7 linked regions of the Homo sapiens genome follow. The protein of the gene in region 5 purifies or fractionates together with the protein of the main gene of each other region. This does not show direct contact. Each region holds a gene or a part of one and is shown on either strand. Other genes may lie near its edges. The genes, in order: DDR1, VKORC1L1, MYH1, MYH2, TSPAN33, MYH8 and TNNT3.

Region 1 (3,500 bases), on a different chromosome or scaffold from region 5:
TTTCAAAAGGTGGGATATTTTTTATACTTCTGTTGCTTGCTTTTCATATTCAACAGATATACATGGAAATCACACAAAGTTAGGAATATATTGCCTCTTTGTTACTTTTCATAGCTGCATAGTAGTCAATAAACCTTATTTTTTTTAATTCCAGCCTGTCCCCTGTGGGCATTCACATATCTTACAGATTTATGTCTTACAAAAGGTACCATAATAAACATCTTTGAAATCTTCTTTTTTATTTTTATTTTTCACTTTTTTTAAAGAGATGGGGTCTCACTATGTTCACCAGGCTGGTCTCTAACTCCTGGCCTCAAGTGATCCTCCCATCTCGGCCTCCCAAAGTGCTGGGGTTACAGGCATGAGCCACCAGACCCAGACCTGCACATATGTTCTTACTTCCTGGTGCTTCTCTCTCGAGGGAATGCTGGGTCGAAGAGGATGTGCATTTTTAATTATAATAGACATTGCTAGATTGCTTTCCAAATAGAAGATAACACTCATTTCTGCCATTGAGCATGGTGCCTCCCTTTTCATCACTTTCTACCACTTTTATATGTTACAGCCTTAAAAAAATATCTTGTCAGTCTGCTTGGTATTTCCCTGAGGCTGGTGAATTTGACCATTAAAAAAAATGTTTGTTGGCAATTTGGCTTTGCTTTTCTGTGAAATGACTATTCACATTCTTTGGCTGTTTCTTTATTGGGTTACTTATATATTTTTTCTTGTCAGTTCCTAAGGGGCCTTAGTTTATTGTAGTTATTAAACCTTTTCCTGTTGTATGTGTTATAAACATTTTTTGCACACTTGTTGTTTGTTCTAAGCCGTTGTTTATGGGGATATTTTGCCCATTCCTGATTGGAGAAATGGGGCTTTAGGAAGTTATTTAACTGATCTCTGCCCTAGTTTCTTCATGTGTTAAATATGGATAGTAATAGTATCTACCTTATGAAGTGACTGTGAAGATAAAATTATGGATTCTGTTTAAGGGTTTAGGCCAGTGTCTGGCACAGGGGAAGCATTCTAAAAATATAGCTGATGCTGTTAAACAATGACTGTTGTTGTTGTTTTACTGTTATTATCCCCAAAGCGGCCCATTCTGTCTGTTGCTGTCAGCTATGACTCAGTCCCCTGATTAACTTACGCACCACCCATTTTATCCCCTGCAGAGATGCTGCCCCCACCCCCTTAGGCCCGAGGGATCAGGAGCTATGGGACCAGAGGCCCTGTCATCTTTACTGCTGCTGCTCTTGGTGGCAAGTGGAGATGCTGACATGAAGGGACATTTTGATCCTGGTGAGGAGACTGAATCATGGGTCCCTGAGGGCCAGGGCTTGGGAGGTAGAGAGTTGGGGGCCTTGACCTGTTACATGCCTGCTTTTTACTCAGCCAAGTGCCGCTATGCCCTGGGCATGCAGGACCGGACCATCCCAGACAGTGACATCTCTGCTTCCAGCTCCTGGTCAGATTCCACTGCCGCCCGCCACAGCAGGTACTTGGCACACCTGGCACACTTGTAGCTGCCCCGAGAGGAGCTCCTGGGACCTCTACTTCCCCTCCAACCCCTCTGCCCATGCCAGTGAAACCCCTGCAGGCTGAGGGGGCAAATGAAGTGGGGTTTAAATACTGGAGATGGAGGCAGACCTGGGGCCAGATGTTCTCTGTGCCCCTCTTCACCCTCAGGTTGGAGAGCAGTGACGGGGATGGGGCCTGGTGCCCCGCAGGGTCGGTGTTTCCCAAGGAGGAGGAGTACTTGCAGGTGGATCTACAACGACTGCACCTGGTGGCTCTGGTGGGCACCCAGGGACGGCATGCCGGGGGCCTGGGCAAGGAGTTCTCCCGGAGCTACCGGCTGCGTTACTCCCGGGATGGTCGCCGCTGGATGGGCTGGAAGGACCGCTGGGGTCAGGAGGTGAGACTGGCAGGGGCAGCACCCAGAGGAGGTTGGCTCTCCTCACTTCCAGCTGTACTTTAAACACCACCTATACGCTGACGACTCTCCAGTTTATATCATCTCCAGACTAAGCCTCTCAGCTGAGCTCCAAACAATATTGTAAACCTGGCCACCTTTTGGATTTCTCCACTTAGATGTCTTTTTTTTTTTTTCTAATAGATGGGGTCTTGCTGTGTTGCCCAGGCTGGTCTTGAACTCCTGGGCTCAGTGATCCTCCCACCTTAGCCTCCCAAAGTGCTGGGATTACAAGCACTGTAGCCAGCCACCTAGATGTCTAATAGGCATCTCAAACGTACGTTTAACTTCCCAAGCTGAATTTGATTCCCATTCCCAGCCTAAACCTGCTCCTCCCCTGGCATTCTCCAGCTCAGGAAGTGGTATCACCATTGCCTGGTTGCCTAGGCTATAAGTTAAGATGATATCCTTGATTCCTTTTTTTCTCTCACCTCCTTCCAAAGCATCAGCAGCCCCGTCTGTTCTACCTCCATAGTGTTCCTGAGTCCAGTCACTCCTCACCACTCCACCTCTACTGCCCTAGGCCACCTGCCCGCCATCTCCAGCTTAGATGAGTGCAGTAGATGCCAAACGCGTCTCCCTGCTTCTGCCCTTTTCTGCCTGGAGTCAAATCTCCACCTGGGGGGGCGGCATCCAGTGGACCTTAGAGCATGTAAATCAGATACGTCACACCTAGCTGACACCCCCATGCTGGCTTTCCACTCTGCCAGAACAAAAGCTGAGTCCCTAGCTGGTGCAGGATGCTCAGCCTGACCTGGCTCCTGCCTGCATCACTTGTTTCTTGGCGCCTCCTTGGCCACGCTGCCTTTCTTCTTGTTGCTGGAACAAGCCAGGGCTCGTTCCCACAGCTTCTGGACATTTTCTCTGTGCCTGCAAAGCTCCTCCCCTAAATAACCACAGGCTCTCCCTCACTCCATTCAGTTCTCTGCCAGGTGTCACCTCCTTAGAGAGCCTTTTCTGGCCACCCACCTCACTGCTCTGTCCATACTTCCTGCCTCTTGTTCTTCGCAGCTGTTTTCCCTGCTGGGATCTCAGTCCTACAAGGGTGGGGAGTGACGTTCACCACTGAGAACGCGCCTGGCACAGAGCGGGCACTCAGCCAACTTCTGCTGAATGAACAGAGGGAATGGGCTGAAATGAAGGGGAAGCTGAGGCAGGGGTGCAGGGCTGTGAGGATTGGGGAGAATCTGGGCACAATGGGATGATAGGCTTGGAGACAAATGGATGGAGCCAGGCAAGGAGAAGAGGGCAGCTGAGCCTGAAGTCTGAGGATGGAACATCAGAGCTGCGACAGAGCCAGAGGTCTCAGCTGCAGATCTTCATTTCACCCATGCCTGGCTGCGCCCCACAGTGCTGTGTGCTCGGTGCCACCCCTCATGGGTCTCTAAGTGGCCACTGTGGGCTGGGCCAGGGAGCAGCTGGTGGGTGGGAAGTAAGATCTGACCTGGACTCCATCCCACCCACCCCCTGTTTCCTGGCCCACAGGTGATCTCAGGCAATGAGGACCCTGAGGGAGTGGTGCTGAAGGACC
Region 2 (3,492 bases), about 63 Mb from region 5:
GAATGTGGCAAAAGTTTTTATACAACTGAAACAGTGGTTTCCCCGAGGCTTAGAAAAGCAAAGGAAAAACTGGAAGGGTCTGGCTGACCATTTTGCCATGTTTTCTCAGGTAAGAGTTGAAGACATTTGCAAGAATGCAACATCAAGACAAGCTTTAACTATACTCTGTTGATTGATACAAAATAGGATGAAAAACCATTGGATATTGGGACACGAGGAACTTGTTTAGCACAACCGATGTCATGTATACCACAGTTTTAACCATTAGGCCATTTCCACTGTAGCTTAGAAAAAAGAACCAGAGGACTGCCTTGGTAGAGCTGGATGCGCTGCTACAAGATGGCCTCACTGTACAGCCCTCAAACGTGAGGACTTCTTTCTCCATAGACACCAGATGGCCAATCAGTACTTTCTAGAGTTCTTTAACTACTTCAGAATGCAAGAACAGTACATACATACTCCAACAGCCATTGAAAGATTCACATTCATGGGAAAACACAAGTCTTGATGAAATCTTGACTTAAGCTCTCTTTTAAGAAACTGGTTGAAACTGGTGAAAAGTTCATTATGATTTGGACTTGATACCTGCCTCGGGCCAGAAGACCTACGTTGCATCAATTCTGAGTCAGTTGGAAGCTACGGAATTGTTGCTGACTCTACACATTTGAGTTTACAGAGCAGAGCCCGTCCCCTCCCTTCAAAGAGAAGGCAAATAAAGCACTCAAGAGATACTGGTCTCATTGACTATTTTCAACATAAAATGATTAATCAGGTTGGAAGCAAAAACATTACTGCTGCTTCTCAACCAGAGGATTAAGTGATCACACAGGACCCTTCTGCAGAGTGCAGGTTTTCTACCTGACGGTGAAGAAAGGAGGGAAGGACACTTCTTCTGCCCAAGGTCAACACACAAAATATTTGGTTTGAGATTTAAGACAGAAGGCACTTTTAACATTCTGATATCAGATGTTAACCATACAAACATCCTGTCACAATTTCATTTGGGTGTACTCAAATCCCCTTACAAAAGTCTTCTTACTGCATGTGTGTCATTATGAGAGCAGTGGCGACATGAGCAGATTTAGCCTTGAGATGTGTCTACCTGTTGCTATTCTCCCGATGAAGCAAACTGGGCAGCATGTCAGCCCTGAAGGTTACAAATCCAGTATTTGACTGCAAAACAATTAAATTAGACATCTGAGTGGTTAGTGCAGAAAGAAACAATTAGCAAGAACACTGGCTCCCACTCCGGAGCGATGGGGCTTGGACTGGTCTTTTCCATCATAATACTCTTTGCTTGACTGGCACCAACGTTAAGGAAAAATATCTGCATGAAAATTCAACTAGTGGAAGAAACTTTACCTAAAAATGCCATGTTTATATTTCCAGCTTTTCTCCAAAGAAAAATACCCATTTTCCCATCCTTAGTGTCTGAAGGCCTTGGACTTGAAGGTCTGGCCACATGACTCATTCTGTAAGGTTAACAACTGGCCCAGTTTTATGACTGAACACAAACTGGACTTGAACGTTCCAATTCAATTTTTTCCTTTCAGAAGAGGGAGATGAAAGGGAACCGACCACCCTATTATTATTTTTTTTGCCCTATTATTTGCTGCAACCACGGCTGCCAGTACTTTTCACAAGATGCTGTGTATAGGCTATTTTCACTATCTCCTCAGTCAACGCTGAGCTGACAGTTCTTCAGTGCTACACTCCAACTAAACTGTACAGTAAGTTCTGCAGAAATGGATCTAATATTTCTACCTTTATTTACAAATATCACAAATGGATTCTAGTTGAATCTACATGTTTAAATCCATCGGCTAAAAACATATTACATATTGTAAACATGGCAATATTTAATACAGTATCTATTCTAGAATATTTTCATGTCATGATCACATTTGTTATACCTGAAATTGAATTTATACACATTAAAGAATTACTAGCAATGGTTGCTCACTTTACAATTGAGGGCAGGGGGCTAGGGCTACATTTTATCATTTCAGAAACACTTCAAAGTAAAGTTAAAGCTTGTCTTTGATTGGCTCGGCGTATCCTTTTTGTATCCATATTTAAAATGAAGACTGACACAGAAAATAGCGAGGGCCCCTTCTAATTTACCGGATTTTTAAAAATCAGTTTGAGATTCTTAGGGAAAGTGTCTGTTGTGAATAATAATAATAATAATAATAATAAAAACCTGCTGCAAAATAAACTGAATGGAAAGGGGCTTGAGACTGTTAGGGTGGAGTCTGTCGGGCGTCAGTCCTGCTTGGGTTGCAGCTGCCGCTTCCAGGCCTCGTTCAAGTAAACTAGTCGTTTGTAGTTGATAATGAGAAGAAGGAAGTTCAGCACGTACGTGACGATGCAGATGATGCAGAACTCCTTCAGCACAAAGTACAGAATGTAGGCCAGGTACAGGGACCCCACGACCGACATGATGGAGGACGTCATGAGGATCAAAGCCGCCACAGCGCTTGCTGTCATGCCTGTAAGAGAAGAGACGCAGGCTCAGTCAGGCCTTGGTGCTGGAGAGAGGCTTTCTGAGTGACAAGGAATAACACTGTGTGACTTGCTGCAGTGTTTGAATACTGATCTTCCTGCCAACTCTGAAAATTGAGAACAGAAATACTGCTCTGTTTTGTTAAAATTATACAGGTTGACTCTGCAGTTGATAATGCCAGGTTTTGGGGTTTTTGAGATGGAGTCTCACTCTACCGCCCAGGCTGGAGTGCAGTGGCACAATCTCAACTCATGCAACCTCTACCTCCTGAGTTTAAGCAATTCTCCTGCCTCAGCCTCCCAAGTAGCCAGGATTACAGGCACGTGCCACCACGCCTGGCTGATTTTTTGTTGGCCAGGCTGGTCTCCAACTCCTAACCTCAGGTGATCCTCCTGCCTCAGCCTCCCAAAGTGCCGGGATTACAGGCATAAGCCACCATACCCAGCCAAATGCCAGTTTTATAGCTGTGATGTTTTTGATTTCTCAATCTTTCAGGTAAAACATTACTAATTTCACAAACTAGCCTAGTTGAAAATATGCACACAAAGAAAACATGCAATCTCACAATCACATTAAGCAATGAAGCTGACTTGTAACATCAACAGCCCCAAGACACCAAATGAATAACGGGACATGAGGACCACAACCTTTTTCTTCCGAGCTGCACACATTTGGTGAGAACCTTCTCTGGACTTTCACTACATCCTGCCCATCTGTGGAAAGTAAAATTTGCTTTTCCATGTTTAGATCAAATTGATTAAAAATCCACAATGAGAGGTGACTACACCAACAAGCTGCTGAAGAGAGAAAAAGAAACTCTTGATAAACATTTCAGGAAGGGCTCACCCTGGTGGATAAGGGAAACCACATTTTGCCCGTTGGCTGCATGTGGGTCAAACCTGATCAAGAAAAATGGTGGACATGTGTGCTAAATCCAGGCTCTCAATACAAAAAGGCACCTGAAGCCACGCACAGTGGCTCATGCC
Region 3 (3,500 bases), on a different chromosome or scaffold from region 5:
GTCCAGTTCTATATTAACTCATTCCCATTATCCTACCACCAAATACCAAAAACAACCCCAGTTTTGGTATTGCCATACTTCATAGAGTGGCTTTAAGGCCATCCATGACAAGCATGAGCTAACACTTTACCCTTCCAGGTAGCTGGTTTATTCCTCTTCTGTAGAATATTAATATCTACCTTGAATTACTGGTTTGTTTTTCTGTGTCTCCACATAATTTTAATCCCCAGAGGGAGAGTCTGTACTGTACTAATCTTTGTATTCTTGTAGGCTGTCCAACATATTAAGGGCTCAAATGTTGGATAAATTGAATTCAAATGAAATATACTTGATTTTGTCTGTCTAATTGTATCCCTTATTTGTGCTAGTTTTTAATTAATCCATTAATAATAAAGAAGCTTTCCCACATCAATATACATTTTGCATCGAGAACTCCTCTCAGAATCTCTTCTAAGGCATCTACCAAAACATTAATTCCAACAATATGGCTGTATATGGTCCCAGAATGTTTTTTCCCTAGTTTTTCATATGTTTTGGGAGCAAGGAAACTTATAGTTCCATTTTAACTAAGTCTGGAACATACTTGGCCTCCTCCAGCTCCTCTGTGCGCTGGATGGCATCTGTCTCATATTTGGTCCTCCACTGGGCAACCTCACTGTTGGCCTTGGACATTGCTCTCTGTAGCTCGGCCTTGGCTTCCTGCTCCTCCTCATACTGTTCCCGCAGCAGGTCACAGTCATGGCGGGAGGACTGCAGGGCATGTGCCAGGGCACTCTTGGCCTGAGAACATAGAGATTGATGACTTAATTTTATATATTTAAAGTGATGTTTGATTCCTGATCTCCTATAGGCCACCAGAAGAAAGTCTGTAAAAGTAAGCGAAAAACAAATAACAAGAACAATAATGACAAGAATGACAAGTGGAGCTTACCTTTATCTCCTCTTCAAGTTGCCTTTTCAGTTCCTCAATCTGTTGTGTAAAGGCTTGTTTGCCCCTCGAGAGCTGTGAAACTAGTGTGTCCTTTTCATCTAGCTGGCGTGAATATTCACCTGTAAAAGACCAAGTCCAGAAAACTCAACCTTACTTTGGAAATTAAAACTCTAAAATAAAAACTTGAGCAGGGAAAGGGAGCCAAGTTTGAAACTTGATGGAGGGCATGGGTGACAACAAACCACCAACATCCGCTTTAACCTTGATAAGCAGATCCATGTAAAAATTAGAAGCATGGAGAAATTTGAGGCAGATTACATGCTTGTGAACAGCACAAAAGATTTCAAGAGATATTTACGATTATTTGATCGTAGTCAAAATTGATGAAGAAACATGAAAAAAATGTAAATCAAGCCAACAAAATATTCTAGTACTTTTTATTTTATGTAAGGCAGTAGTGTTGTCTAATTTGCCTTCCATTGAAAGTTGGTTGAAACAAAGGATTTATACTGTGGAAAATAAGAGACTTTGGGCAATGTCTTCTGTAAGTAGAAATGATAGTCAAGAGAAATTCTGGAAAGATTTTTATATTAAGAAATGATTAAGTGGTCTCCCATCCCCAGAATGAATTGGTTTCTGGATAAGTACTTTCCAAACTAAATGGCATTTACACATGTCTTCAATTTTTTAAGCACCATAATGCAGAAAATGCACTACATTATGTTAGAAAGATAGTAAAACTTTTCCACACCATTTTTATACTAGTTATCTTGAACTTTATCTCTGGCATTTAATAAGAATTATAATAAATATTTATTCTGAACTTTGTTATAGAAAGAATAGTATTTGAATACCAAAAGTGTAGAGTGATTTTCCAACACTTTAACCTGCCTATTACTTTAATAGCCTAAATTACCCATAAAACAATTTCCATTTTGTTACCTCTACCTGGGGAGATACAACTCTGGTAGAAAGTTGGACACGTCAGTAGGAGGGGGAATAAATGCAGAGACTTTCCAATTTCTCTAATCAAAAATCTACAAATCTTACTTGAATGCTTCTCAGCTGGGTTGTGGTCTTGAATATTTCCCTACTTAACCGTGTTAGTTACCAGTAATTGGCAAGACTTCAGGAAAAAGACTGGAGTAAACATTCTTGGACAAGTTGCTTCATCACTACCATAATCCACTGTCTTTAAAATGGGGATAGTATTACACAGACTAATGAGGAAAATAAAGTAACACATAGCTTGCGAAAGCATTTTGAAAAGTGAAAAGAGGTACTGTAAGGATGCACTTTGTTTTTGATAACTTTTTGATTAAAGCCAAGTCTCCCTTAAAGTCTTCAAAAATAGAAGGGCCTGATTCTATTTATCTCTCTCTCTCTCTTTATATATATATATATATGTATGTATGGATATATATACAAATATATATATGGATATATATGTTTCATATATATACACATATATTTCTCTCGTATATATATGAAAGAAAGCAACCTCATGCCAGTGGTCAATAATGTGTTCATATTAGTGGGGATCTCCCAGGGAGGTAGTATATGACCTCAAGTAAATAAATGCAGAGTTTTTCAGTGGATTACACATGCAGGGTGAATTTGTCATTCAAGGTCAGTACTGGTACATGGCCCACCTGATTCTGTTTGCAGGCGCGCTCTCTGTGCTGTGAGGTCATTGATCAGCCGCTGCTGCTCCTCTTCCTTGGTCTTAATTTCACTCAGTTGATCTTCTAGAGCGCGGCACATCTTTTCAAGGTTTCCCTGCATTCAAAAAGTGGTAGAAGGCATCTCAAGTAAGTAGTTGGACCAAAGAAAGTTTCAGTAATCTAAACATTCCATATGAGCTGCAGTACTCATTTATTTTGAGAAGAAACTATCTTTACAAACAAAACCAGCAAAGGTCTTAGATAGTGAATGGAAAGACTAATAAGATACATAGTCCAAGCATACAGCCACTGAATTACTTGTTAATCTAACTACTTTACTAAGTTGTACTATACGTGATATGAGAAAAAGGGTGCCTGATTTAGTTCATGAGACGTTTTTGAGATACAAATCATATTTGTGCTAAAGGGAAAAACAAAAAACCAAATAATCAATGTGAAGTGTTGATTGTACCTTGGCTTTGGAGACAGTCTCCATGTTACTAGCAAGGTCATCGATCTCCATCTTCATCTCACTCTTCTCCTTCTCCAGCTTCTGCTTCACTCGCTGCAGGTTGTCAATCTGCTCCCCAAGCTCGGCCACACTATCTGCATGCTTCTTCCTCAGGGTGGCCGCCGTGGCTTCATGCTGTAGGGTGGCCTCCTCCAGGTCCCTGCGCATTTTCTGGAACTCAGCCTCCCGCTTCTTGTTCATCTCAATCTGGGCTGAGGTGGCCCCACCGGCTTCTTCCAGCCTCTCGCTGATCTCCTCCAGCTCCCGGGAGAGATCAGAGCGCTGCTTCTCTGCTTTGGCCCGGGAGGCCCGCTCTGCCTCGATTTCCTCCTCCAGCTCCTCAATGCGGGCCTGGGAATGGTGAAAAATATTAATACGAACTCAACTTCTTGGT
Region 4 (3,500 bases), on a different chromosome or scaffold from region 5:
TACATCTACACATATACATATGTGTATGCAGATATATAAATAATTTATATGAAGCAAATTTTATTTTTACCACTTGTAATTATGCTAATATTTTCAACTATATTCCATTTTATTAAAAATAATAAATTTTGGTCATGATCCACGATATATATATATTTGGGTAATTGTCTATATATGGGGTAATTAGCTGTAAAAATCATTTAGATGAAAACAAAAGTGGTATTAGAGAATAGAATACAAAATTCACACAACATTAACATATAAAGCCAGATATTTTCTAAGAAATTCTGAGTTTTTAATATCTCCTGCCCCATATACCCCTAAAGAGCTGTGTTCCCCCTTCACTGCCCTTAGTGGTGTTTTAGTAGCAATGTTTGAGAAGCACTGACATACAGCAAGGCTTCTCAAAGGGTGCTCCTTGGACTTGCAACATCAGCATTTCTTGCAAACTTGTTAAAAGTGCCAATTTTCAGGCTCCACCCTAGATCTTCTGAATCTGAATCTGAATCTACGGAGGTGAGGTTCAGGAGTCAGTATTTTAACAAGCCCTTCAGGTGATTCTTATGCATGCCAAAGTTTGAGAAGCAGTGATGTAGAGAAATGAGTGACCTTAGCAAGACCTTGACCATCATCCCGAAATAGAATTTTTTCATCTGCATGTTTGAAAGCAGAGTAGGAACAAGGTGAAGCAGAACCTCCAACTCTCACTGCCAAGGTTTCATCCCATTGCATCAACCACACAATACTAATTTGCATCAATTAAATTTCAGGGAGGCCATCTTCTGTATCCAGTACAATATCAGATCCTTCATGAATGTCAAGCACTGGCCCTGGATGAAACTCTTCTTCAAGATCAAGCCTCTGTTGAAGAGTGCAGAAACTGAGAAGGAGATGGCCACCATGAAGGAAGAATTTCAGAAAATTAAAGACGAACTTGCCAAGTCAGAGGCAAAAAGGAAGGAACTGGAAGAAAAGATGGTGACGCTGTTGAAAGAAAAAAATGACTTGCAGCTCCAAGTTCAGGCTGTGAGTTGGAATATCACCCTTGGTATCACTAACCAGGATGCAGGTGCTAGAACTTTGGCCATTGTGGGCCATGAGTTGGGTAATTGCAAGGGAGACACTCATTGGAAGGAAAAGGTTAAAACACTCCAATGGCACGAAAAGGTCCAAACATTCCTCCATTGCCCAATAACCCCCAACAAACCAGCACCAGGGCAGTGAGGTAGAAATATCCCTCATTTTCCATTGTACACAATTTCATCAAACCACAAGATTTTTGACTTATTTTCTCTTTAAATACAGTCCATAAAAATGATTTTAATATGACACAATCCCAAATAAAATATGAAGGGGAGGATAGCATGGAGAGAGTAATATTTTTCGGAAACTTCCTTGAACTTCTAGATGTCCACGGGTCTTAAATTATAATAGGAACAGCTGACATATGACAGCACTCTCATCAAATTTTACTGAATTATCGTGTGATATTGATCTCAAAAACTCAGACTCCCTCTTTCTAATCTGTCTCCACAGTCAGTGTCCCATCATGTCACACCCACATTGCTGCATCAGCACCAAAGTTGCTCAGCCTACTTCCCAATTGTCTCTTCTTCCATCCAGCCTGCTCACTGCCCTCTCCTGAACCAATCATTTTAGAACTGCTTCCATCAACTTCAGACTATAATTTATAAGACTATGTTTTATTTGGAGTGAATTGAATTGGTCTACTTATCATAAAGTCATATTTTTTTCTGTTAAGACTGGTCTCTCTGTCAACGTTGAGCAGTATAATAACTCCTTCTAGATTACAGAAGGAAAAAGCCCTCCAAATCTACCCTGTATTCTCTTCTGTTGTCCCCAGAGATTTATGCAGAATCTGTACTAAACCACTGTATTCGTTACACAGTTATACATAGCACCCTGCATTCCTTAATGTAGTCAAAGACTGATATGGAGGATTACTGATGAGTATATATTCCAGTGTCTCCTTCATTTCCCGCCTGCCCTGTCCCCCTTAATTGGAAACAGCAGGTTGCCAGGAATTTCTTGATTACTTTATGTTTCAACTTGAATTTAGTACATCATAATCAGGAGCATCCTCCAGTACTACAAAAAAAAAAAATCAGTAGCAGCTGTATCTTGAATTTGTCCTGCTAGAATGCTTCCCCACAACCCTCCTGCTCCTCTCCACAATAAGTTGATTTCTGCAAAAGCAAATCCTACCCCTCTCTCAAGGCCCAAATCAAACAGCAATTCTTTCATGAAACCATCTCTGATCCAACTTCTCTGATCTGTTATGTCACTAATTGCTTTCTACATTAATGGTAGCTTTTGGGAAATAGGTTTTCTAATCTACTGTAGAATACATTCTTTTAGGGGAACAAAATGACAACTGGTACATTTTGGCTTACCCACATGTGGAAAATGTACACAGTAGGGTGGTTCATGAAACAAAAATTTGTGAAGGAGTAAACAAATGAATATAGGAAATTCAAAAGATCAAATGCAGAAACATACACTCTTATCCATTGTGAAGTATTTCATTCTTTCTTCCCAATTTTGATCTTGTTTCCAACTTAAGGAAGCCGAAGGCTTGGCTGATGCAGAGGAAAGGTGTGACCAGCTAATCAAAACCAAAATCCAGCTAGAAGCCAAAATCAAAGAGGTGACTGAGAGAGCTGAGGATGAGGAAGAGATCAATGCTGAGCTGACAGCCAAGAAGAGGAAACTGGAGGATGAATGTTCAGAACTCAAGAAAGACATTGATGACCTTGAGCTGACACTGGCCAAGGTTGAGAAGGAGAAACATGCCACAGAAAACAAGGTATCAATCATATTCTACAGTACTGTATAGAGGTTCTGCCACCCAACAAAGGTGCTTTATAGCAACTAAACTGCTTTCTTCACCTTTGTAGGTGAAAAACCTCACAGAAGAGATGGCAGGTCTGGATGAAACCATTGCTAAGCTGACCAAGGAGAAGAAGGCTCTCCAGGAGGCCCACCAGCAGACCCTGGATGACCTGCAGGCAGAGGAGGACAAAGTCAACACCCTGACCAAAGCTAAAATCAAACTTGAACAACAAGTGGATGATGTAAGTCTGGTATCATCAAGGACATTCTTTTCTTCTAAAGGAAGATAAGCATTCCTTCTGATTCAACATAATTTATATTTAGCTTGAAGGGTCCTTGGAGCAAGAAAAGAAACTTCGCATGGACCTAGAAAGGGCTAAGAGGAAACTTGAGGGTGACTTGAAGTTGGCCCAAGAATCCATAATGGACATTGAAAATGAGAAACAGCAACTTGATGAAAAGCTCAAAAAGTAAGTAAGAAAGAATTGCTTATGGATTTGCTTCCAACATTAGATACGGACTAAATTGTTGTCCTTTGCTACTTTTCTAAAAGGAAAGAGTTTGAAATCAGCAATCTGCAAAGCAAGATTGAAGATGAACAGGCACTTGGCATTCAATTGCAGAAGAAAATTAAAGAATTGCAAGTA
Region 5 (3,500 bases):
CCACAGCCACCATCACCATGGAAATCACCTGTGGAGACAGGAAAAGAGCCAGACCCTGAGATTCTGGAAACCAGAGAGCCCTGAATGCCATGAGAAACCTAGGAGAGCAGGAGAAGGACTGCTTTCCTGGGACCCAAAGGTGAGCATCTTTCACCTCCCCAGTGATTCTGCTGATAGAATCTGTCAGGGCTTTACCTCCATGAGACACTTTTACCCACATCATATTTTTCATTATTCATTCAGTGCTCGTAACACAATTAGGTTGTGAGGCAGACATTATGCCTATTTTACGGATGAGGAAATTAAGGCAATCCAAGGTTAATACTGAAGAGTGATTAAGAATATGGGCTTCAGGCTGGGCATTTTGGGAGGCCAAGGCAGGAGAATCAACTTGAGGTCAGGAGTTTGAGACCAGCCTGGGTAACATAGTGAGAGCTTGTCTCTAGACACACACACAAAATAATAATTAGCTGGGTGCAGTGGTGTGCACCTGTAGTCCCAGCTACTCAGCAGGCTGAGGCAGGAGGATGGTTTGAGCCCAGGAGTGCAAGGCTGCAGTGAGCCATGACTGTGCCATGGCACTGAAGCCTGGGTGCCAGAGTGAGGCCCCGTCTCTAATAAATTGAAGTTAAAATTAAAAAGGACACAGTCTTCAGAGCGAGTCAAACTTGGGTACACATAGGGCAAATTTCTGAGCCTCAGTTTCTGTATCTGAAGATGGGAAGTAAGAACAAACAACTGACAAGATTACTGTAAGAACCAACTAAAATAATGCATGGAAATAATTTAACACAATGCCTGACAATAAATATTATCTATCATTATTAATAGTTAACTTGCCCAGGGTCACACATAAATGGAAAAGTTTTGAATTCGAATCTATCTGCATCAAAGGACAGGTTTTATACCTAAAGCAGGCCTGGGCGGTTGCATACTCCCAGCTCTCTAACCCTCTTAGAGGTCAATATCATGTCAAGTACAAAAAGAAAGTGCACTCCAATGTGAAGGACTGTGTGTGAGTGCATGTATGTAAGCACTGGAACTGCCTTGGCAAAGGAACCTTTATCTTCACAAACTCTGATTCCAGTGTGGAGGAATAGAGAGGAGTTTAGATCTTTCAAATTTCCTGGCTTCTCCCTGAGAGAACAAACCCATCAGAGACTAATAGGAGACCCCAAAGAGGCCTTATCTACCCCCTAGCCCCCAGGCCTCCAGGGGTGCAGGAGAGCCCCAGTGCCTACTTCCCTTGGCCACCCTTTTTTTGTGCCCAGTCTCCAGGCTGGTGCTAAGCAGCAGCTGGCTGTTGCCATGGCAACAGATGGGGCCAAGCTCTGGCAGGAGAGAGTTCTCAGCAGCAGGGTCTTGACCAACTCAGTGGGGAAGGAGATGGCTGGCTAGACACCACTGTCCTGCAAGACGGAAAGCAGCTGGAAAGAGCCACCATGGGGCTTTGGTGGAAGAAGGGAGCTAGGCCCCCAGAACAGGTAATAGGGTCAGATGAGTCCCTCATTTTTCCCTGTAGGCCTCCTTGTTGAAGGTCCTCTGCCATCTGGCAGGGGAGGGCAGGTGCATTCAGCAGTAAATGGCAAACCTTTATCTAAAACCACGTCTTCCAGAACTCTTCTCTGCCTGTATATACAGCCCCCTCTTTTTTGCGGGGTGAGGGAGGAGGGTCTTGTGCTATTGCTTAAGCTGGAGTGCAGTGGCATGATAATAGCTCATTTCAGCCTTGACCTCCTGGGCTCAATTGATCCTCCCACCCTAGCCTCCCAAAGTGCTGGGATTACAGGTGTGAGTCACCACACTCAGCTGGCCCCGGTCTCTTCCCACCTCACATCATTTGACCATGCCTCTAACTCAGGGCCCAAAGTGTTATTTGCTGGCCTTCATACTCTTTGTCCAGGAGGGTGGGAGCTGCTAGCAGAGCTGCAGGTGCCAGCTGGCGCCTTGTCCCACAGCACTGCCAGGCTCACGGAGCATGGGGGAGGCAGGGAAACTACATGACAGAGATGCCAGTCATTCCCCAGGCCTGGTGGCCAGTCCTCCACCAGAGTCAGTGAGCATCTCTGTCTGCCCTTTAAAACCCACTGCAGCCAATTACAGTTCTGAGTGTCATTTTACTGAACTATTGAAAAATGTGTATCTGCTCTTGATTTCTGTTGCTTCCAGGCTCTCATTGTTTTTCATGTCAAATTTTCACCAGGGTGTATAATTTTCCACAAAGATGGTATCTGATTAAATCGTAGCACAGCTAAAACAAGAAAGGCCAAACAAGCACTACTCACAATAGCAAAGGCATGGAATCAACCTAAATGCCCACCAACAGTACGGGAAAAAGAAAATGTGGGGTCAGGCCAAACACGGTGGCTCACGCCTATAATCCCAGCACTTAGGCCAAAGCGGGTGGATCACGAGGTCAGGAGTTTGGGACCAGCCTGGCCAACATGGTGAAACCCCATCTCTACTAAAAATACAAAAATTAGCTGGACATGGTGGCACACACTTGTAGTCCCAGCTACTTGGGAGGCTGAGGCAGGAGAATCGCTTGAACCTGGGAGGCGGAGGTTGCAGTGAGCCGAGATCATGCCACTGCACTCCAGCCTGGGCAACAGAGTGAGACTTCATCTCTAAAAAAAAAGAAAGAAAAAGAAAATGTGGGGCCGGGTGCAGTGGCTCATGCCTGTAATCCCAGCACTTTGGGAGGCTGAGGCAGGTGGATCATGAGGTCAAGAGATTGAGACCATCCTGGCCAACATGGTGAAACCCCATCTCTACTAAAAATACAAAAATTAGCTGGGCATGGTGGCACATGCCTGTAGTCCCAGCTACTTAGGAGGCTGAGGCAGAAGAATCACTTGAACCCGGGAGGCGGAGGTTGCAGTGAGCTGAGAACGTGCCACTGCACTCCAGCCTAGCGACAGAGCAAGACTCTATATCAAAAGAAAAAAAAGAAAAGAAAATGTGGTACATATATACCATGGAATACTACGCAGCCATAAAAACGAATGAAATCATGTCCTTTGCAGCAACATGGATACAGCTGGAGGCCATTATCCTAAGCAGATTAATCCAGGAACAGAAAACCAAACTCCATGTGTTCTCACTTGTAAGTGGGAACTAAACATTGAGTACACATGGCCACATGTACTTTAGAGTGAAGGGTAGGAGGAAGGAGAGGACGGAAAACTACTTATGCTTATTACCTGGGTTATGAAATATCACCCCATGACACATAATTTACCTATATAACAAACCTGCACATGTACCTCTGAACCTAAAATAAAAGTTGAAAAAATGGGCAAAGTAAAGAGATGCCACATATCATAGAGTAAGTTAACTGTATTTATGGGCCTGTAATGACAGCAGTTGCTCTGTCTCTATCTATGGTGGAGAGAATAATGTCCCCTCAAAGATGTCCACGTCTTAATTGCTGGAACCTGTGATTGTGTTACTTTTCATGGCCAAAGGAACTTTGCAAATGTGATTAAGAATTTTGAGCT
Region 6 (3,983 bases), on a different chromosome or scaffold from region 5:
AAATACATATGTAAATGTACAGAAAAGGTCTGCAATATTACAAACTAAACGGGTATCCGTAGTTACCTTGGGAGAAAAGGGAGATACCAGCATTGTGAGTGTTCATCAAAGGGAAAATTTAGCCTAATCTCTAAGGCTTTAATTTTTATGTAATTACAGTGTAAGAGGTTACACACCTGCATATATTTATCAAACCCATAGGCCTGGAATTGTTCTGCATCCTATCTGTGGTGGTGGCTACATGAATCAATACGTGTATAAAAACTCATACAATCATACAACAAAAGAAGTAAATTTTATTATAAAGTTTAAAAATTTTTAAAAATAAAAGCAAAAAACCTCATAAAACTGTCACTTTAAAAGGGTGAATTTGACTCTATGTAAATTATACCTCAATATATCTGACCTTAAAAAAAGGAAAGAGTTTAATTAAAAAAAATCATAATTTATTTAAAGAATAGGGTATAAATTACATTAGTGATATGATATATTAATTATTAAAGCATATTACAAGGCACACATGTACTATATATGCATCTATAATATGATCCCACTTATACGCCTCTATCTTATTTCTGCATTAGAGATTACAGAGACTTTTTTTACTTACCTGTATTTTTTTCTGTAATAAACATATTATTTTCTACTAATAATGTTTTTCAAAGTTAGATGAGTGGGCACTGGCCCAATGGTGGAGACTCAAGGTAGAATCTCTGCTGTCTAAGCCTGGACTTCAAGAGTGAGCATCTGTAGTGGCCCAAGGGAATGCAGTGGGGGGTTCCCGTGGTAGCAAATAAGGAAACGTGCTTAAGGCCCTGACAGCCGTGTGCCCCGGGTATCTGATCATTTGGCTACCACAGGCGTGCATGAAAGAGTTTGCCAAATTGAATATAGCTCTTAAGAACTTACTCTGAGGCCCCATCAGGCACTGTCAAAGATTCCCTTCCCAGCACACTAGAAAGCATTCTCTGCTGGCAGATCGGTCTCTGTCAAATTATTTATAGGAGATTGGTTTGCATACACAAAATGATATGAATACTTCTAATTATATCCAAACATGACAAATGTCACTACAAACTATGCTGAGGGTTCATGTTGCCAAATGTCTTGCCCTAACAAAGAGGAGGTAGTTGCAGCATCAGCACATTAGTTCCTATATAAGCAGGACTGCCCCTTGTGCCTTATTTCCACCAAGAACCCAGAGGTAAGTGATGAAGGCCTTGGAACTCGAAAAACCCCAGGTGGGGAAAAGAGCTGACCTCGTAGTTATCTGTGAGCATTAAACTGCTCTCTCAATCTTAACTTTTGTCTTCATAGAACCAAGCTTTGGGGTAGGGAAACTTCAATTCTGTAACTATAATAACAATTCTGTAACTATAATATTGGAATTTCGGAGCATCACTAATAAGAAGCTTGTTGTTTTACAGAGTGGAACACTTCTGAACCTGCATTTTTATCTGGAACTCCAGAGGTAAGACTTGGCTTTATTAATTTATTGATGACAGAGGGGATATAGTCTAATGAAGCTGTGAACAATCCTGAATTATACACCATTTCCATGTTTTTGCAGTTATATCAGGAAAGAGTGTTTCCGAGTGAGTGTTTATAAATGCTAGAAAATAACTTTTTCAAAATGTCTTCTTCTCAGAGACTATCCTCATTTGGGTTCCAAGATTCAAAGACCGTTTAGGACAGAATTAGCTTCAACAGTGAGTTCTCAGCTGTGCTTAGAACTGTCCAGTGGCAATAGACTAGTCCATGCCAGTCTTCTTCTATGGCAAAGCATTGAGGACTTAGGACATTTTATAGACATTTTTAAAGACTCCAGAAAGATTTTTACCTAGAAATATAAATATAAATATTTTAGCTACCTTTGATTATTTGTTATTTGTTGTTAGAAAGACTTATTATTATTTACTTAACAGGTCGCAAGTATTACATCCACCGGGTGTTAAATACCATGACTAATTTAAGAGGAATCCTGCCCTTCCCTAAGTAACTTTCTAATTGAAAATAAAGGAAAAACTCAACCAATCTAACATGTCCACATTGCAGAGGCCTATCTATTAATCAGAAGACAATGGCTTACATGCATGTGATGTACTCTTAAAACTTTTTTCTCTGTTTTCTGGGTGGAAAGAAAAGAAACCCATGGAATTTATGTGGGAAGAAGGGCCTTTGTGCTGAAGCTCTCATTCCTCTGTGGTTAGATCTGTTAACTGACAGCTGAAATCTCTCATGTCAAAAAAGATTTTGGAATCAAGGCAATGCTAAGTCTGTTGGGAACAACCCAAATTACAAAAAATCCAGAGTATTAGAATGTATTATGTTCTTCTAACAATCCACTGAGAGATACAACACCAAATATCAACATAAAGATGTTAAAAATAATTATTTGCTTTATGAGAGAAAATGGCCATCTTAAAAGGCAAAGATTTTTTGATAGCTTTGAAAATATGAACCTTCATTTGAACAAGACAAACTTTCTTTTCTCACCATATGATTGTCCTGGCATATGGCATAGACAAACATTATGCAGAAAGAGGAGAGGAAATTAAATAATGACAGTTGCTATAAAACAATCCATCAATAGTTTTAGCTGTAGAGGTTTCATTCTAATTCAATTGTAGGTACCCTATCCCTGAGGATCAAGATATGTGATCTGAAAAGGAAATTCACAGTCCTAAAAATGAAATCTCAAATTACAGTCTCACTCCATACTTGTCCTTTAGACTATGTTAGAACACTGGGGAGTGCCAGTTTGGAGGAATAGTTACAGCACAGGCTATGTTCAACATTTCTTTCATTTCAAATCCTAACTCACATTTGTGACTTCTGCTTTTTATATCTCTCTCTCCCGTTTCTCTCCTCCCTAGGCAGAATCCTTTGCTAAATAAATCGCAGCCATGAGTGCGAGCTCAGACGCTGAGATGGCTGTTTTTGGCGAAGCTGCTCCCTACCTTCGAAAATCAGAAAAGGAGCGGATTGAGGCCCAAAACAAGCCGTTTGATGCTAAAACATCTGTCTTTGTGGCGGAGCCCAAGGAATCCTATGTGAAGAGCACTATACAAAGCAAAGAAGGAGGGAAAGTAACCGTAAAGACTGAAGGTGGAGCAGTAAGTGAAAACAGGGAGAAAATACTCCCCATTTTATTTCTTGGTTCAAAAGTTGAAGCCTAACTTACTGGGAATCTCCAAGCCTGTTGCCAATGCAAACACCCTTCTAGTCAGTGTTGAGACATTAGATGTGGAAGGCAAAAGAAATTCACAGCAGTACCTTCATGTCTTCCCTTCCCAACTTCGCACAGGACCTCACCCCACTATGTATGGCCTTCACCATTTCCCTTCAATTCCCCACTTCCTAGTCTGAATGTCCAAACTTGAGGGAAATGAAAACAAGCTCCTCCTATCAGAAGTTAAATATTTACTTAGTTAAATAATGTATTAATATCCCCATTACTTCCAAAAACATGAAGTTTCTTAATGAATGAAAGAAAAAAATAAAAATTTAGCCTACTAAAATAAGAAAAAAAGGATATAAACTGATAAATCTGGGATAAGAGAATGTGGGAGGAAAAAATCTTTTAAAAAGATAGTGTCCTAGCTCATCATAGGAAACAGGTTTTCTTAACATTAAACTCTGAAATGAATATATTTCATGCCTTTTTTAAGAGGACATTAAATAATATAATGAGAAGTATGTGTGATTATAGTTTTGTACCAAAATATACAGGCAAACATAAACCCTACCTCCAACCATTAAAACGAACTGGTCTTAGCCAGGCGCAGTGGCTCACGCCTGTAATCCCAGCACTTTGGGAGGCTGAGGCAGGTGGATCACCTGAGATCAGGAGTTCGAGACCAGCCTGGCCAACATGGCGAAATCCTGTCTCTACTAAAAATACAAAAATTAGCTGGGCATGGTGATGGGCACTTGCAATCCCAGCTACTCAGAAGGCTGAGGCAGGACAATCACTTGAAGCA
Region 7 (4,270 bases), on a different chromosome or scaffold from region 5:
TGCAGGCCGTGTGCCGTCCAGCCCGCTCTAGACACTGGAAAGGTCCCGCTGATGGAGCTGAAACCTGTCTCTGGGTGTTCTCTGCCCAGTGGGTGTAGGTGGGGTCTCCCTGGGAGCCCCTGGATGACCGAGACTGGCTCCCCAAGATGAGTAATCTGCTCACCCTACCATTCCCCATGAGAACCCCTCTTCCCTATTTGAGCCCAAAGCTCCCTTCTGTGCCTGTTTTCCTATGGGGTGCCCAGAGTGTGTCCCACCACACCCCTCTGAGGACCCCTCCTCCAAGATCACAGAGCAGGGAAGCTGTTCCTTCTTGTTACCCCTGTACCCTGAAAACATTGAGGCTGAGCCCCAGAGCACGTTGGGTTGGGTCTGGGCCGCTTCCCGTGCACCCCCCCGGGCCGGGCTCTGTACAAGGCATACTTGGACTGCAGGAGCCCACAGAACAGCCCCCCCATTTCCCTCCCTGTGGCCGCTTTCCCTGGTCCCGGGGATGCTCTGGATCTGTCCCTGTCTAGGGGAAGCTCCATGCCCAGGACTGGCTGCCCTGTCCATGTGCGGTGGTGGCGCCAGGCCAGCATGCTGGGGACCGTCTCTCTGTGAGCTGGCCACCGTGCACACTGGGCGGCCAGGCCTGGGGAGGCTCTGAGCAGCTGCACCGGCATGTTGGCCAGGGTTTTAGAAAACAAAGTTCATTACAACACAGTACAGATTACTCGAAGACAATAGCTACGGTCCCCCCTGGGAGTGTTGTATAAGGAAAACACACGTTCATCAGCTAAAAATGCATCTACGTTGCACTGCTGAGGTGGGAACCGTTTTCCAAACCCTCTGTCAAGAATGTTAATTTTCCCAGAGCAACTTAAGCTCCATGCAAAATTACCCAGCAGATAGCTGTCTTCCAGGCAACGGGGGTAGCTTTTTCCTATCCCAGAATCTCTTCCTGAGACTCTGCTGCCCCTCAGGTTAAGCCTCTTGTAACTGCCACGGCTGGGCCAGGCTCTCCTCAGTCCTCAGCCCCACGAGCCAGTGTTGTCCAGGCCCCCGGTGTGACCCAGTCCCAGGCTGCCCACCAGCCCCTCGTGCTGTCCTCCCAGCTGGTTCAGGCCCCAAACGCCACAGACTCCTCTAGGGCCATCCTCTGTAAGGAGGAGGAGGGTCAGTGAAGGGAGGGAGCGGAGCCTGGCCCCGCCCTGCTGTGCCCAGCCCGACGCTGGCGGGGCAGACACCTGTCGGCTGCCACAAGATGGGGGCAGCGTGGCCCTCGCCTGGGGTGGGTTATTTATAAGGAGCCAGTGGCAGCTGAGGTGTCCAGAAATAGGCAAGACGTTTCTGCCCAGAAACCCAAGACGTGGGTGAGGCGGGTGTGACAGCCCAGCCCTCCTTGGCCCACAGCTGCCCCCTCACCCTCGGGCACCCAGGCCCTCCCCAGCTCCTCATATTTCCCTCCTGTCCCCCCAGGCCAGAGTCACATGGGTGCCCCAACACCCTCAGGCAGGGTGACCTCCAGGCCCCCCGACGTGCGCTGGAAAGGCCCACTCTCCAAGTGGGGAAACTGAGGCACCTGGTTTTCTGCTGAGCGCCTGGAAGCAACACAAGGCTGTTCTGTTCCCCCCAGTATGGCCTGTGTCATTGCCTCTGTTGCGGGGAGGGGCTGGTGGCAGGGGTGTGCTGGGGGCAGGGGTGTGCTGGGGGCAGGGGATGGCATTTCAACAGCTGAGACGCAAAGCAGGTGTCCAGTTAGTGCCTGCCTTGGAGGGGCTGCGTGAAAATAACCTATGCGGTCAGTTTCTTCGGGCACGTATGCATCACCTTTCCCTCCTTGGGAGGTGACGGGGCCAGGGCAGGGTGGGGAGGCAAAAGCCGCTGCCCCTTGCTTGCTGTGGCCCTGACCATGCCCCCAGACCTGTTCTCCACCCAGCCAACCTTTGCTTTGCCCCATGTCCCTCCGTGGACTTCAGGAGGGGCAGCCAAGGCCTGATCAGACGGCACAAGTCAGGGGGACCGTGTCCAGGGCAGGGAGGGTGGGTGGGGGCTCTTACGAGCGCCAGCTTCTCCAGCCTCCAGCCAGGGGGACGCGATGAAGCCCAGCCCCTCACTCTTGCCCCGTCCTGCCCCAGTCCAGCCCCTGTCCACTTCTGTCCTGCACCTCCAGACGCTGGCCCCCAAGGCTGCGTGGGCTTTAGACGCCCCCACCCCAACACACTCGGGCTGGCCATACAGGAGCCCCTGCCCTCCTGTCCTCGTTTTCATCTCTACAAAATGGCGGTGTTGGAGGCCCAGGTGCGAGAGCTGCATGGCAAGGCCAGGACGGGCCTGGGCAAATGTCTGCATGGCGACCACAAGCTGGCAACCTAAGCCCTGGCAGCACCCCTGCACAGCCTCTTCCCTGCCGCTCACAGCCCGCACCTCTCTGCCTCCTGCCCTCAGGCCACTCCCTAGCACTGAGCTTCCCTGAGCCCCGACTTGCCCCCTCCTGGCCTCCCACACTCTGCCTTCTTCTGCATCCTCCCGGTGCTGAGACCATCACACCACCATGTCCGCATCCCAGACTCTCCGGACGCTGGAGCAGCCACCTGGGGGCTCCGAGCCATGATGCTTCGAGATGCTCGGCACCACACGGACCTGGGACCTCAGCGCCCCAGGACCCCAGAGTGTCCCTGGAACGAGGGGCTGTCCACCCGCACGCAGGAGGCCCCGTCGGCCCCAGTCCTGGGTGGCCGCTCCTGCCTATACCCACCTGCGGGTCGAGTGTGAGAAGGGCTGGAGCTCCCTGTGGACAGCACCGGCTGCAGGCACTGGCGCCCGGCTCACACCCTCGTGTTATAGTGACATTTGATCTTCCTAGGAGCCCATTGGCCAGTGACTGGGTGGCCGGGGTGTGTGCGGAGTCTTGCTGGGGGGGGCTATGCCCGTGCAGGCCCCTTACCAAGTATAGGAATGGCCAGAGGAGGAGGCTGAAGGAGGCCAGGATGCAGAGGACGTGCTTGGAGAAGGAGGCAAGGTCCTCCCTCCGCCTCCAGGAGGTGTCAGCTGCTATTTTTACTCCCAGCAGCGGGTACATTCTGGATGGGCTGAGGAGGGAGGAGGAAGGTGTTGGGTGGCCCCGGGGCACCAAGCCGAGGCTCTCTTTGGGCCAAACTAGTGTGGGGGTCCCCAGAGCCAGGCTGCCGGGTTTCCCACCCCCCCGCCCCTTCTCTCTGAGATGTTCTGTGGGAGTAAACATTTGTCCAGGAAAAGGGTCCGCACAGCCGGGGTCCCCTCCCGCCGCCCGGCCCAATGCCCCAGGCCCTTCGCTGTCTCCCCCGGGGAGGAAGCAGCCTGAGGCCTCGGAGACCCCCCATGGAACTGAGGCCAGGCCCCCACCCTATCTGAGACCCTCTTAGAGGCCAGCTCTGCTTTCCTGGCTAGACACCGTTGGGGCCTACACAATAAGCGGGCGAGGGACATGGCCAGGCTGGCTGCAGTCCGAGTCTGCCATACCTCCCCCCGGGGCTGCTGCCATTGCAGGGGGCTACACATGGAGTTTGCTGGGTAAGGGTCTGGGTCCTCCCTCTAGGCCCTTTCTAACCCTGGGGCCCCACCCTGGGCACTCGCAGTGGCCGTTACCATCTGTGCCAGCATCTCCCACAGGCTCATTGTGGCGTGTGGAGACTGGTTTTCTTTCCTCAGGACTCCAGGTGGCACCGTCCGACTAGCAGACATCCTTCCTGGCCTCTGATGGCCTGTATGCTGGCCAGTGAGGCCACCAGATTGGATAACCCTGCCTCTTGGATCAGGGAAACTGAGGCACCAGGTGGGGGAGAGCAGTCTGGCACCCTGACCCACCCCCTCACTCCCCTCAGACCCCACAGGCTGAGCGTGGGCGGTGGTGTCTGCGGAACTCTTCGGTTCAGGCACAGATTGGTTCCTTCTTGGCCAGCGCCCAGGACAGGGGTGAGTCCCGAGAGGCACAGATGAGGTCCCTGTCCTCCCCAGGCTTAGAGTCAGGGACAACAGGATAACCCGGCAGGGGCTCACAGTGCCCTGGGGCCGGGTCGGGGGCCTTCCGGAAGGCTGTGGTTGGCACCTCATTCCACCCCTCCATGGAAGAGCGAGGCCGCAGAGCCCAGGGACAGGCAAGGTGTGCCTGGGGTCACACGACAAGGCGGGCTGGCCCCAGGCTGCCATTTCAAAGGACAGGGCCGGTCCCCTGCCTGCCTCCCGCTGAGTGCCCGGCACTGGGAAGGCTCTTGGAGCTGGGGTTGCTGGGAACGTCGCCGTCCTCCTG

The links.
Region 1: the proteins of TSPAN33 (region 5) and DDR1 purify together in Homo sapiens (affinity purification with mass spectrometry; one large-scale study listed by BioGRID and IntAct). This does not show direct contact.
Region 2: the proteins of TSPAN33 (region 5) and VKORC1L1 purify together in Homo sapiens (affinity purification with mass spectrometry; one large-scale study listed by BioGRID and IntAct). This does not show direct contact.
Region 3: the proteins of TSPAN33 (region 5) and MYH1 purify together in Homo sapiens (affinity purification with mass spectrometry; one large-scale study listed by BioGRID and IntAct). This does not show direct contact.
Region 4: the proteins of TSPAN33 (region 5) and MYH2 purify together in Homo sapiens (affinity purification with mass spectrometry; one large-scale study listed by BioGRID and IntAct). This does not show direct contact.
Region 6: the proteins of TSPAN33 (region 5) and MYH8 purify together in Homo sapiens (affinity purification with mass spectrometry; one large-scale study listed by BioGRID and IntAct). This does not show direct contact.
Region 7: the proteins of TSPAN33 (region 5) and TNNT3 purify together in Homo sapiens (affinity purification with mass spectrometry; one large-scale study listed by BioGRID and IntAct). This does not show direct contact.

What each region holds. Positions count from the first base shown.
Region 1 is NC_000006.12:30,887,519-30,891,018, forward strand, and holds part of DDR1 (epithelial discoidin domain-containing receptor 1 isoform 2 precursor), read left to right. Parts: intron 1-1,169; coding exon of another isoform or gene 1,170-1,211; coding exon 1,212-1,296; intron 1,297-1,389; coding exon 1,390-1,492; intron 1,493-1,683; coding exon 1,684-1,912; intron 1,913-3,364; exon of another isoform or gene 3,365-3,454; coding exon 3,455-3,500. UniProt on the Homo sapiens protein: Tyrosine kinase that functions as a cell surface receptor for fibrillar collagen and regulates cell attachment to the extracellular matrix, remodeling of the extracellular matrix, cell migration, differentiation, survival and cell proliferation.
Region 2 is NC_000007.14:65,953,074-65,956,565, reverse strand, and holds part of VKORC1L1 (vitamin K epoxide reductase complex subunit 1-like protein 1), read right to left. Parts: intron 2,493-3,492; coding exon 2,266-2,492; coding exon of another isoform or gene 2,153-2,265; 3' UTR 1-2,152. UniProt on the Homo sapiens protein: Involved in vitamin K metabolism. Can reduce inactive vitamin K 2,3-epoxide to active vitamin K, and may contribute to vitamin K-mediated protection against oxidative stress.
Region 3 is NC_000017.11:10,498,043-10,501,542, forward strand, and holds part of MYH1 (myosin-1), read right to left. Parts: intron 3,458-3,500; coding exon 3,068-3,457; intron 2,711-3,067; coding exon 2,584-2,710; intron 1,051-2,583; coding exon 932-1,050; intron 781-931; coding exon 584-780; intron 1-583. UniProt on the Homo sapiens protein: Required for normal hearing. It plays a role in cochlear amplification of auditory stimuli, likely through the positive regulation of prestin (SLC26A5) activity and outer hair cell (OHC) electromotility.
Region 4 is NC_000017.11:10,529,159-10,532,658, reverse strand, and holds part of MYH2 (myosin-2), read left to right. Parts: intron 1-770; coding exon 771-1,026; intron 1,027-2,584; coding exon 2,585-2,827; intron 2,828-2,918; coding exon 2,919-3,095; intron 3,096-3,177; coding exon 3,178-3,323; intron 3,324-3,406; coding exon 3,407-3,497; intron 3,498-3,500. UniProt on the Homo sapiens protein: Myosins are actin-based motor molecules with ATPase activity essential for muscle contraction.
Region 5 is NC_000007.14:129,158,207-129,161,706, reverse strand, and holds part of TSPAN33 (tetraspanin-33), read right to left. Parts: intron 29-3,500; coding exon 1-28. UniProt on the Homo sapiens protein: Part of TspanC8 subgroup, composed of 6 members that interact with the transmembrane metalloprotease ADAM10.
Region 6 is NC_000017.11:10,419,151-10,423,133, reverse strand, and holds the start of MYH8 (myosin-8), read left to right. Parts: upstream 1-1,183; 5' UTR 1,184-1,204; intron 1,205-1,427; 5' UTR 1,428-1,471; intron 1,472-2,876; 5' UTR 2,877-2,906; coding exon 2,907-3,116; intron 3,117-3,983. UniProt on the Homo sapiens protein: Muscle contraction.
Region 7 is NC_000011.10:1,918,233-1,922,502, reverse strand, and holds the start of TNNT3 (troponin T, fast skeletal muscle), read right to left. Parts: upstream 2,801-4,270; 5' UTR 2,741-2,800; intron 1,142-2,740; exon of another isoform or gene 884-1,141; intron 1-883. UniProt on the Homo sapiens protein: Troponin T is the tropomyosin-binding subunit of troponin, the thin filament regulatory complex which confers calcium-sensitivity to striated muscle actomyosin ATPase activity.